Regions from separate parts of the Homo sapiens genome. Here region 2 is linked to region 1. Evidence: fine-mapped expression QTL. A gene starts in region 1. The other region holds a variant in brackets. All regions are shown on one strand. Distances are between the middles of the regions. Region 1 holds the start of TMEM119 (transmembrane protein 119). Region 2 overlaps SELPLG (selectin P ligand).

Evidence for each region. PIP is the estimated chance that this variant, and not a neighbour inherited with it, causes the effect.
Region 2: its variant is fine-mapped to the expression of TMEM119 in whole blood (TOPMed, PIP above 0.99).

The regions. Positions count from the first base shown.
Region 1 is chr12:108,595,203-108,600,571 of GRCh38, forward strand. It overlaps TMEM119 (transmembrane protein 119), which reads right to left and starts at 2,882. Exons shown (of 2, transcript NM_181724.3): 1 at 2,768-2,882.
Region 2 is chr12:108,620,334-108,625,702 of GRCh38, forward strand. It overlaps SELPLG (selectin P ligand), which reads right to left. Exons shown (of 2, transcript NM_003006.4): 2 at 1,562-3,979. The coding sequence starts at 3,974. The coding sequence ends at 2,736. Among named protein-coding and RNA genes, the nearest start is that of SELPLG, 11 kb to the right of the region's middle. The variant T/C (reference allele first, on the strand shown) is at 2,550.

The sequences.
Region 1 (5,369 bases):
CACAGCCATACATACACATGCACACTCACCACACACACAACCATTCATACACGCCACACACTCACACACACATCCCCATACACACCCCACACATAATCATGCACACACGCCACACACACACACACCCATATACACACATGCACAGACTACACAATCATACACACATGCACACACACCACACACAACCATGCACACACATACCACACACACACTCACACACCCATATACACACATGCACATACTACACACACAATCATCTACACACATGCACACACACCCCACACACAAACATGCACACACGCCACACATACCCATATACACCCCACACACAACCACGTACACACATGCCCCACACACACCCCTATACACACATTCACATACTACACACAATCATACACACATGCACACACCACACATATATGCATACACTCCACATACACACAACCATACACATACACCACACACACTCACCTACACAACCACACACACATGCACACACCACACACTCTGAGCCAGGAATGGCTTGTTCCCGCTGGTGGACATCACCTGTCAGATGCTAAATGAGGAAAGGACCCCCTCACCTCTCTGGCACCTGTTAGCAAAGGTTCCTACAGACAACCTTGAGCTTTGGGGTCTGTGACCTGCCAGTCACCTCCCTGCCTCCCACCCCCAGTCAAGCCTAGGAGAGAGCTTTTGTGGCAACAACTACCACTTCTCACTGCAGAGGGCAGCTGGGACCATGGGTGGCTGGAGACCCACTCAAGTTCTGGCTGGGTCAAGAATCCCGGCTCCATCGCATCCAGCTCTGTGGTCTGGCTCCTGTGGGCCTCACTTTCCCCATCCGTAAGTTGGGACAGGGTGACCACAGGTAGCACCTCTCAGAGCTGTTAGGGCCAAATGAGACAACTTTCAGAGAGTGCCTGGTGCGAAGTAGCTGAGCCCCGAGGAAAGATAGGGTCTGGGGTAGCTGAATTCCTTCCCTAGCCGAACTCCAGGTTCAGCCAGCAATTTCCCACCCTGAGTCGACAAATGAGCACCATCGCCGGATGGGAACATGCGCTCACTGTCTGGTCCGGCCGCCACCCAGTGAAAGACCAACCTTTTCACCCCGTTCAGTGAAACCTCTTTAGCTCTGGCCGCCAAGGAATGCAGAACCAAACACACACATGCACACACATACACATACACACACATGCACACATACACCTACACACACATATACATACAACACACACACACACACACACACGAAGTCAGAGGCAGAGGGCAAGAAAGGAGAACACACAAACTGCCACTGGCTCTTTAAGGCTGAGACCCTGACTCTCAGAGTCCCCTGCACCCCACAACCCCTCCTGGCTTCCAGGGAAAGGTGGGGGCAACGTATGGAGGACCCAGCCCCACCTGCAGTCAGCAGAGCCTCAAAAAAGATGGTTGTGTGGCCCTGGACGGCCCCTGCCCTCTCTGGGCCTCAGTTTCCCATCTGTGGAATGAAGCACTGTTCTGGGCAGCTCTGAAGTCATTATTCTGCCTACCTCCCCCCGGACCCTAATTTTTTCAAGGACTCAGAATCTAACAGGCCATTAGGAGCTGGGGTCAGGCCCAACGCCTCTTGCTTCACCTTAGAGGTAACTCAGGTCCAGAGACTGGAAACAGCCTGCCCAGGTCACACAGAAAGTCAGGGGTGAGCCCAGCAGAGCCCTGGACAGAGAAGCCTGTCTTGGTATATCCCAGAGGAGGTCACTTCCCGGCTATGTGTCCTTGGGCTGGGCATGTCACCTCTCTGAGCCTCGGTTTCCATATCTGTACAATGGGGATAAGAGCCACCTCCCTGGACTGCTGTTAGGACAAGATGCGGCCATGCCTGGTGCACAGTGGGTGCCAATTAGCAGGTACCACGTGATTGCCCAGGACTCCCTGCCTGGGGACATGTCAGGCAGGGCTGGCCGTGTGTAAGTGTGGCAAATGCCCTAAGATGGTCCTGAGTCTGTGGAGGAGTGCAGATGCACCCCTGAGGCCTGGGGGCCCCAAGACTTGAAGCTAGGGGACCGGGGGCTGCCCCACCCCCACCCAGAGACTGGTGGCCTTTGGGGGAGGGGCGGCCCACGGAAACCTGGCTTCAATCAGTGGCCTTGTGGGGGAGGGGTGTTCTGGTTGGAGCACTGCACATGCCCCCGACCCCAGGGCCAGCCAAGGACAGGGACCTGGGCCCTGGAGGTCTGGATGGGGAGGGGGGTCCTGGGGGCACAATCCCCCTCCACACACACACACACACACAGAGCAGCATGGACACACAATATAAAGACACACAACACAGGCACACCGACTCACACAGCACTGAGACACCCAACAGCACTCTCATGGCCCATGCACACAATACACAGAGAACACACACGGACACACAACACATATACATACACAACCCCCTGACACACAGCCGATCCCTGCACACAGGACAATACCGTCCACATCACCCTCACACAGATCCTGGAAGCAACAGCCTGGCATCCACTTGCAGAAAAGTGGAAGCAACACACCCCCTACACCAAGGCCCCAGCCGCACACACACAACACTCCGGCCCACCCTGGCCCACCCCAGCACCGCACACGGGACTCAGATTCCACCACACTCATGCACACAACACCAAACACACACTCAAAGCCCACACACACTTAGAGAGGCCCCCCAGAGTGCTCCAACAGTCCCCAGTCCCTAAGCTCCAAGATAGCTCCAGGCTCTCAGGACAGAGGAGGGGACCCCAGGACTCACCAGTTCCTTGGCGTACAGGACTGGGTGCTCCCGCCGAATGGAGCGAGAGTGGGGGGCACCTGGGCTGGAAGAGAGAGTCCGTGCTGGTGCCCGGGGCTGCTCTGGGCTGGCGCCTGCCCGCCCTCCCTCCTCCCGTCCCTCCTCCCGTCCCTCCTCCTTCCTCCCTCCCCGGCTGGGCCGCAGGGCCAGCTTGATTTCATTAAGAGGGTTTGGGGTGGGGACAGGGGGAGGGGAGGGGCTACTCTCGGGCCACACGCAATCCCACCCTTGCTCACACTCTCGCTCTGGGGAAGACCAGATGCGGCACTTCCTCCCTGACCTCGGGTCCCCAGGGCAGGCTGAGACAGACAGACAAGGCTGTCCTGCAGCGCTCCCCCAGACAGTGAGCTGGGGTTCTGCCCACGCTGCTGCCCAATACCCTCCAAAGGGGACAAGCTCAGGGAGGTTCAGAGGCCTCTGGAAGTGGGAAGGAAAATTCCCCGTCCTTGTGTGGCTCAGGCTTCCAGGCTCAGGGTGCAGCGTGGGAGCTGGGATTCGTTTTAGAGACAGGCCTGATGGTGGGTCCGAGCCTGAGACAGGGAGCCCAACTCTGCCCTTCCCTCTCCAGACCTCAGTTTCCCATTTGTAGGGATGGGTGGGAAGCTTTCTGGGCTACCTCTGACTCTGATGTTCTGGGATCTGTGGCCTCACAATGCCCCCAAATGATAGTAGCTTGAATAGGAGTTGGAGCCCCATTTCACAGAGGGGGAAAGTGAGGCAGGGTGAGTTCTAATGGTTCAAGCAGGGTCCTGAGGTGAGTCAGTGGCAGGCCTTGGAACCGGGACGTCTGGCTGACCTGAGGAGTCCTGTGGATTAGCAGCCCCTTGCATTCATTCATTCATTCATTCATTCATGCATTCATTCGGCAAGTGCTCAATGAACACCTGCAGCAGGCCACGCACTGTGCTAAGCAAGTTCCAGAGGTGAATCAGGCACAGCCCAGCCTTGGGGAGCTCACAGACTACCAGGGAGAAGGACACCGAGGTAAATTACTTTTTTGCCAAACAGAAAGGGGTCAGGTCAAGGGCTCCGAGAACCCCAAGACAGAGAGATCAATCCCCCAAGGGAAAGAGGTAGGAAGCCATCCTGGAGGGCATGCCTGTGTATGAGCAGAAGCGGGCAAAGCAGGCCCTGGAAAGGCATTCCGCATGGAAGGACCAGCGTGGGTAAAGGTATGGTGGCTGGGAATGCCACCACGCACAAGCCACCGCAATTAGATTAGGCTGGAGCATGGACCAAAGAGAGGATCATGTAGTAAGGGTCAGAGATGTTGACAGGAGCCAGGCTAAAGTCTCGGAAGGTCGGAGGCAGTACGGAGCCAGTGAGGGTTTGGAACAGGGGAGTGCATGAAGGATGAGTGCGTGCTCTCTGGGTAGGAACCAAGCCTAGATTATCATTGTTCCCTGCAATGGTCCCAGCAGCCCTCGCTCACCCCCAGAAAACTGGGACAGTCATTTGCTTGGGAAATAAAATCAGAGACTTTCCCATCTTCTCTGGAAATCACCCCAAACCCTGCATCTTCGAGGGAACAGGGGACCATCCACCAATACTCGCACAGACACATTCATGCACACACATGTCCCAGGGGCAAGTGGCCACCCACAGACATGTTGTAGCAGCTGTGCCCGCTTTAAGGTGGCCAGGGGTGTTCCAGGCCTACCTGACCTGTCTTAGACCAGACATCGGGTGGTCAGGGGCAGCCAAACCTCCCCCAGGGCCCACCAGCAGGGGAAGAAGACCTTACCCAACATTCTGAGGGCTGCAGTCTGGGGACCTTGGGATGTCGAGGAGCAGGGACACAACCAACCCAAATAGAGCCTGCTCCCTGCACAGGTGGCCCCAGAGGCCCAGCCTGAGGGAAGCTCTCGGAGTCCCCTTCCCCTCGTTCTTTGCTTCTCCCTCCTGGGCAGAGCATCCCCCTGAAGGAGGGGTAGTAAGTGTTGGAGACATTGGCAGGAGCTGGGCTAAAGTATTGGAAGGTCACCTAGGAGGCAGTAGGGAGTCAATGAGGGTTTGGAGGGTTTGTTCTGGGATCTGTGGCCTCACAATGCCCCCAATGATAGTAGCTTGAATAGGCGTTGGAGCCCCATTTCACAGAGGGGGAAAGTGAGGCAGGTGAGTTCTAATGGTTCAAGCAGGGATCTGAGGTGAGTTAGTGGCAGGCCCTGGAACCAGGACATCTGGCTGACCTGAGGAGTCCCGTGGATTAGCAGCCCCTTACATTCATTCATTCATTCATTCATTCATTCATTCATCTAGCGAGAGGCAGACAGACCCACTTCAAATCCTGCCTCCACCATGTCCTGCCCCACATGGAGCCTCTGTTTCCTCCTCTGTAAAATGGAGATGGAGACTCCCTACTACTCGGAAGCTGGCAGGGGAAGGCAGAGGAGCTAGGGAGCATGCACGTGCTCAGCAATGTCAAAAGCACAGGCCAAGGCCAAGGGTATAGTTCCCTGTTGCTGCTGTAACAAATGACCACAGATTAGAGGCCAGAAGCCACTCACATTCATGCTCTTGCAGTTCTTTTGGTCAAGAGTCCCAAACGGGCCTCGTGAAGCTA
Region 2 (5,369 bases), 25 kb after region 1:
CAAACTGGGACGACTGGTCACCCTATGCTTAAAATCAGGCGTCAGCAAACTGACGGAGCTGAAATGAGCCTGCCGCCCGTTTGTAAATAAAGTTTTATTAGAACACAACCATGCGCATTCATTTATGGACATATTGTCAGTGGCTGCTTTTGTACTACAAGGACAGAGTTGAGTTGTTGCAACAGAGGCTATGGTGTTGCAACAGTTAAGGCCTACAGTATTCACTGTTTGGTCCTTTAAGAAAAAGTTTGGCAGCTTGAACTTTTCCACCATTTGACAGCAAATCAGTGCTTCTGTGAGTTGTACAAAAGGTTGCAGGCTGCATCTAGGATCACCAATAAGCTACTGGCTGTTAATGAGAGACAGGGCCTGAGTGAAAAGGAGAGGTCAGGGTGAGCTTCTGGAGAGTGGGAAAGATTCTGTGCTTGGCCAAGCTTTAATCAGTCAGGCCCCTGAGTCCTCTCCTAGGCCCATCTGTGCACTTCCTTTTAAAATCCAGTTCTGGGCCGGGCGTGGTGGCTCACACCTGTAATCCCAGCACTTTGGGAGGCCAAGGCGGGAGAATCACCTGAGGTCGGGAGTTCAAGACCAGCCTGACCAACATAGAGAAACACCATCTCTACTAAAAATACAAAATTAGCTGGGCGTGGTGGCGCATGCCTGTAATCCCAGCTACTCAGGAGGCTGAGGCAGGAGAATCACTTGAACTCAGGAGGCGGAGGTTGCAGTGAGCCAGATCGCGCCATTGCACTCCAGCCTGGGCAACAAGAGCAAAACTCCATCTCAAAATAAATAAATAAATAAAATCCAGTTCTAACAAGAACTCTGCTAAGTCAGCTTAGCAACAACCCTCCCCCCACCACTCCATATCTGATCACCTCCCATATCTGATCACCTCCTATATCTGATCACGTTCCTCATCTGCCACCATCCCCCCGGTGATGTCTGAGCACCCTGGCCTGCCTCCAGTATGAATCCTGTTAGGTCAGTGTAGAAAATGACCGAGAACCCATCCCCAGCAGTCAGTTTAGCCAGAATTCCCCTTCCCCTGATGTTTCCTCTTGGTAATTTTCCAGCTGCAGATATCCAACCCTGTTCCCTGGCTATCAGCTCCCACTTGCCCCTGCTGTACTCATAGTTGAGCCCAAATGCCCCCACTGCAAAATCCCATAGCTGCAGTCCCTGCAGTGATTGAGAGAGTCCCACTCCCCTTGAACAAAGTCTTCCTTACCATGCTTTAACAAGGGTCATTGAATCTTTTTTTTTTTTTTTGAGACGGAGTCTTACTCTGTCACCCAGGCTGGAGTGCAGTAGCGTGATCTCAGCTCACTGCAACCTCCCTCCGCTTCCCGGGTTCAAGCAATTCTCCTGCCTCAGCCTCCCCAGTAGCTGGGACTACAGGCATGTGCCACCACACCTGACTAATCTTTGTATTTTTAGTAGAGACAGGGTTTCACTATGTTGGCCAGGCTAGTCTTGAACTCCTGACCTCAGGTGATGTACCTGCCTCGGCCTCCCAAAGTGCTGGGATTACAGGCATGAGCCACTGCTCCCAGTCCCATTTTTTTTTTTCTTTAACAGGAGGATAGATTGATGTTTAGAGGGATATTGGTCCGAGGTTTGGGGGGGACCAAACTCTGTGGGCCAAAACTGGGTAATGGAGGAAGTGGAATAAAGTGGTCACTGGTGGGGAAGGGGCAGCCCTCCCTTTGGCCCCCCATAGCCTGAACTTTTCCTGGTCACCCAAGGATGTACAAGACCCCCTGTTGTCCAAGAGGCAAAACTGAAGTCAACCTAACAGCCCATGAAAGAGGCTTCCTGGGGGGCCAGGGGCTGAGGGCAGACAGCTGAGGACCAGCCCCCATCCTGCACTGAGGGATGGAGAATTCCGGGAAGGCTGCCTGAAGGAGACAGCCTTGAAACCTTGAAGGATTCCGCTATCGTTTGTCCATCACATATTTATTGCCTGCACTGGACCTGCAGTTGGGATACTGCAGTGAACAAGACAGAGTCCACCCTGGAAAGTGGCCACAGGGGAAGGCAAGAGGCGATAGCTGGGGGTCACTTGTCACTAGATGGAAGCTCCTTGGTCCACACAGTCCCAAAGAAAGGTCTGCCCTTGGGCCCACGAAACCCATCCCAGCCCTCACAGGCTGAACCTCACCCTGGGTTTTCCCAGAGAGGTGCCCAAGAAGACCCAAGCTGCCCCAAGTCAGAGGAGCAGCAGGAAACAGCCTCAGAAGTCCGTCACTCTTCAGTACTCCTCCCTTAGAATGTCCACTTCCTGTTTGGTGACCATGGCAACCAAAAGACAATGGCAGTGCAGTGCGTGTGGGATGGGGGAGCTCCATCTTCCTTGGGTACATGGGGAGGAGACTCCAGTGACCAGGAGAAGCGGGGAGAGCCATGGGAGATGTTAGAGGGACCCAGAGAAGATGGGGGACAGGAAAAAGGAGAGAATCTGTCTCAAGTAAATGGCCTCCTGCCTTGGACCTCGGCTGAAATGTGGCTGGGCTTCATCCGCGGAGGGAGGAAAGAGGTGGCTCCAC[T/C]TGCCCGTCTGCTTGGCCCCAGGCTGCTCTTGTCCTGTTTGGGTGGCCAGAGTTCCTTCCCTGAAGATCCCCATCCCCAGGGGTCTCCGAGGAAGCCCAGAGCTGTGGAATGGGGTCTGGGCACTCAGGGGTGGCCCAGGAGAGCCCGTGGAGGTGGGGTCTTGCCAAAACAGATGGCAGAGTGAGCTAAGGGAGGAAGCTGTGCAGGGTGAGGTCATCCCCCTCACGGTCCTCCCTGGGCTCTGGCGTCAGGCCCGGGCTCTTGGCCTTGGACAGGCCCCCATTGGCTGTGGCAGAGGGCCCCTCACCCCCATCAGGCAACAGGGATGAGATGCAGACCATCTCGGTGGGGGAGTAATTACGCACGGGGTACATGTGGCCCTTGCGGGAGAGGCGGACCGCCAGCACCACAGTGCACACGAAGAAGATAGTGGCCACCAGCGCCAAGATTAGGATGGCCAGCAGGCACTGCTTCACAGAGATGTGGTCTGGGGCCCCCACTGGGTAGTTGACGGACAAATTGCTGGCTGCCATGGGAATGCCCTTGTGAGTAACAGAGGACACAGAAAAGGGTATGAACAGACCTCTTTTGGTAGTAGGTTCCATGGACAGGGCCTCTGTGGCACTGGGTTCTGTGGACAGGGCCTCCATGGCTGCCAGTGGAGTGGTCTGTGCCTCCGTGGCTGTGGGTTGAGTGGTCTGTGCCTCCGTGGCTTCTGGTGCAGTGGTCTGTGCCTCCATGGCTGTGGTTTGAGTGGTCTGTGCCTCCATGGCTGCTGGTGGAGTGGTCTGTGCTTCCATGGCTGCTGGTGCAGTGGTCTGTGCCTCCATGGCTGCTGGTGCAGTGGTCTGTGCCTCCAGGCCTGTGGGTTGAGTGGTCTGTGCTTCCGTGGCTGCTGGTGGAGTGGTCTGTGCCTCTGTGGCTGCCAGTGGAGTGGTCTGTGCCTCCGTGGCCGTCAGTCGAGTTGTCTGTGCCTCTGTGGCTGCCAGTGGAGTGGTCTGTGCCTCCGTGGGCACTGGTTGAGTGGTCTGTGCCTCCGTGGCTGCTGGTTGAGTGGTCTGTATCTCCATAGCTGCTGAATCCGTGGACAGGTTCCCCATGTTGGCCAGCTCCGTGGTCAGCTCTGTGACTGCCCCTCCTGCATCCAGGCCAGTAGAACGCCTTGCAGCAGGCTCCACAGTGGTAGACTCAGGGGTTCCAGGCCCAGTCAGAGGAGTGGTGTCAGTGCTGTTCCTCAGCATTTCTGGAGGCTCCGTTTCTGGCAGGAAATCATAATCTAGGTACTCATATTCGGTGGCCTGTCTCCGGTCCCGGGCAAGCAGGGGACCCAAGGCTTTCTCGGCTTCATCTGCCCAGGTGTCCCACAGCTGCAAGCTGTTGCCAGGGCCCAGTAGGATCAGCAACAGGAGGAGTTGCAGAGGCATGGCACCTAGGAGGAGACAATGGGCGGAGGGATGTCAAGACAGTTTCACCCTTGGGCTTAGCAAGCACCCTAGACCACCACCCTCTACTGCCACAGCTGGAAGCATGTCTGGTCTGGAGCAGGGACTGGGGACTTAGGCATCCCTGACATGCCTGGGATGGAGAAGATCCTCAGCCAGTAGCAGTTATTATTATTACTCATCAACATGAATAAAGCCATCCAGGAGGGCCCTTTAACTTCTTCTAGATGGTGCATAGAAATTGATTTGCCTCCCTCTCCATTTTGGTTAAGCCACTTTATTTGTGGACAAGACAATCCACTGGGGTGTAGAAAGATTTAGTGCTTCTGCTTCTAGTTCTATTAACTTTTCATGTCACTCCTTTTTTCTTTTTTTTTTTTTTTAGATGGAGTCTTGCTCTGTCACCCAGGCTGGAGTACAGTGGCGCTATCTCAGCTCACTGCAACCTCCACCTCCCGGGTTCAAGTGATTCTCCTGTCTCAGCCTCCTGAGAAGCTGGGATTACAGGCATGCACAACCACACCCAGCTAATTTGTGTATTTTTAGTAGAGACGGGGTTTCACTATGTTGGCCAGGCTGGTCTCAAACTCCTGGCCTCAAGTTATCTGCCCACCTTGGCCTTCCACAGTTCTGGGATTAGGCATGAGCCACTGCGCCCGACCTCATGTCACTCCTTCTTAATTTCAAGTATTACATTATTTATAATCTATCATAAGAGTAAAGTAGTACCTGCACAGAATTCATAAATAGATTAATTGACCACTTACGAAGTCCATAAGCAGAAGAGTTTGTAAACCACAGACCTCCCAGATACCGCTGCTTATTGGACCTTTGAGGCCTCTTGGAGTCTGATTCTACCTGCTGCCCCCTCTCCCTGCCCACTGCCATGCCACCTCTATATGTCTGTCTTCCTCCTTCTCCTATCTTGCTTCCACCCTCCATAGCCCTTGCCAGTCCTCAGAGTCTCAGTTTGTCTCATTCCTTCTCAATGTCTTGTCTTGGTCCCATTTGCTTTGGTGGTGTTCTTGCCTGCACAATGCACAACAGGGATGACGGTGCCTACTTCACAGCCTATTGTGAGGATAAAATGAAGGGATGCATGCAAGACCCTTAGCACTTCGTTTGCATGACAACCTCTCCGCAAAGACTGGCTGATTTAGTTCTTTCAGTCAACCTGCACTATAAGTCTTCAAGGGCCCAGGGCTACTTAATTACACTCTCCATGGCCAGGAGAAAACTCAAATCTCTTCAGAACAGCCCTGCTCTCAGGAAGCTTATAGTCACTGAGTGTGCCTGTGGGTAGGACCACTGTCTATTCAGAGACTCTACATTGTCCTCCCTACTAGGTAGCCAGAAAAGACAGTGCCTCTTGTTTGG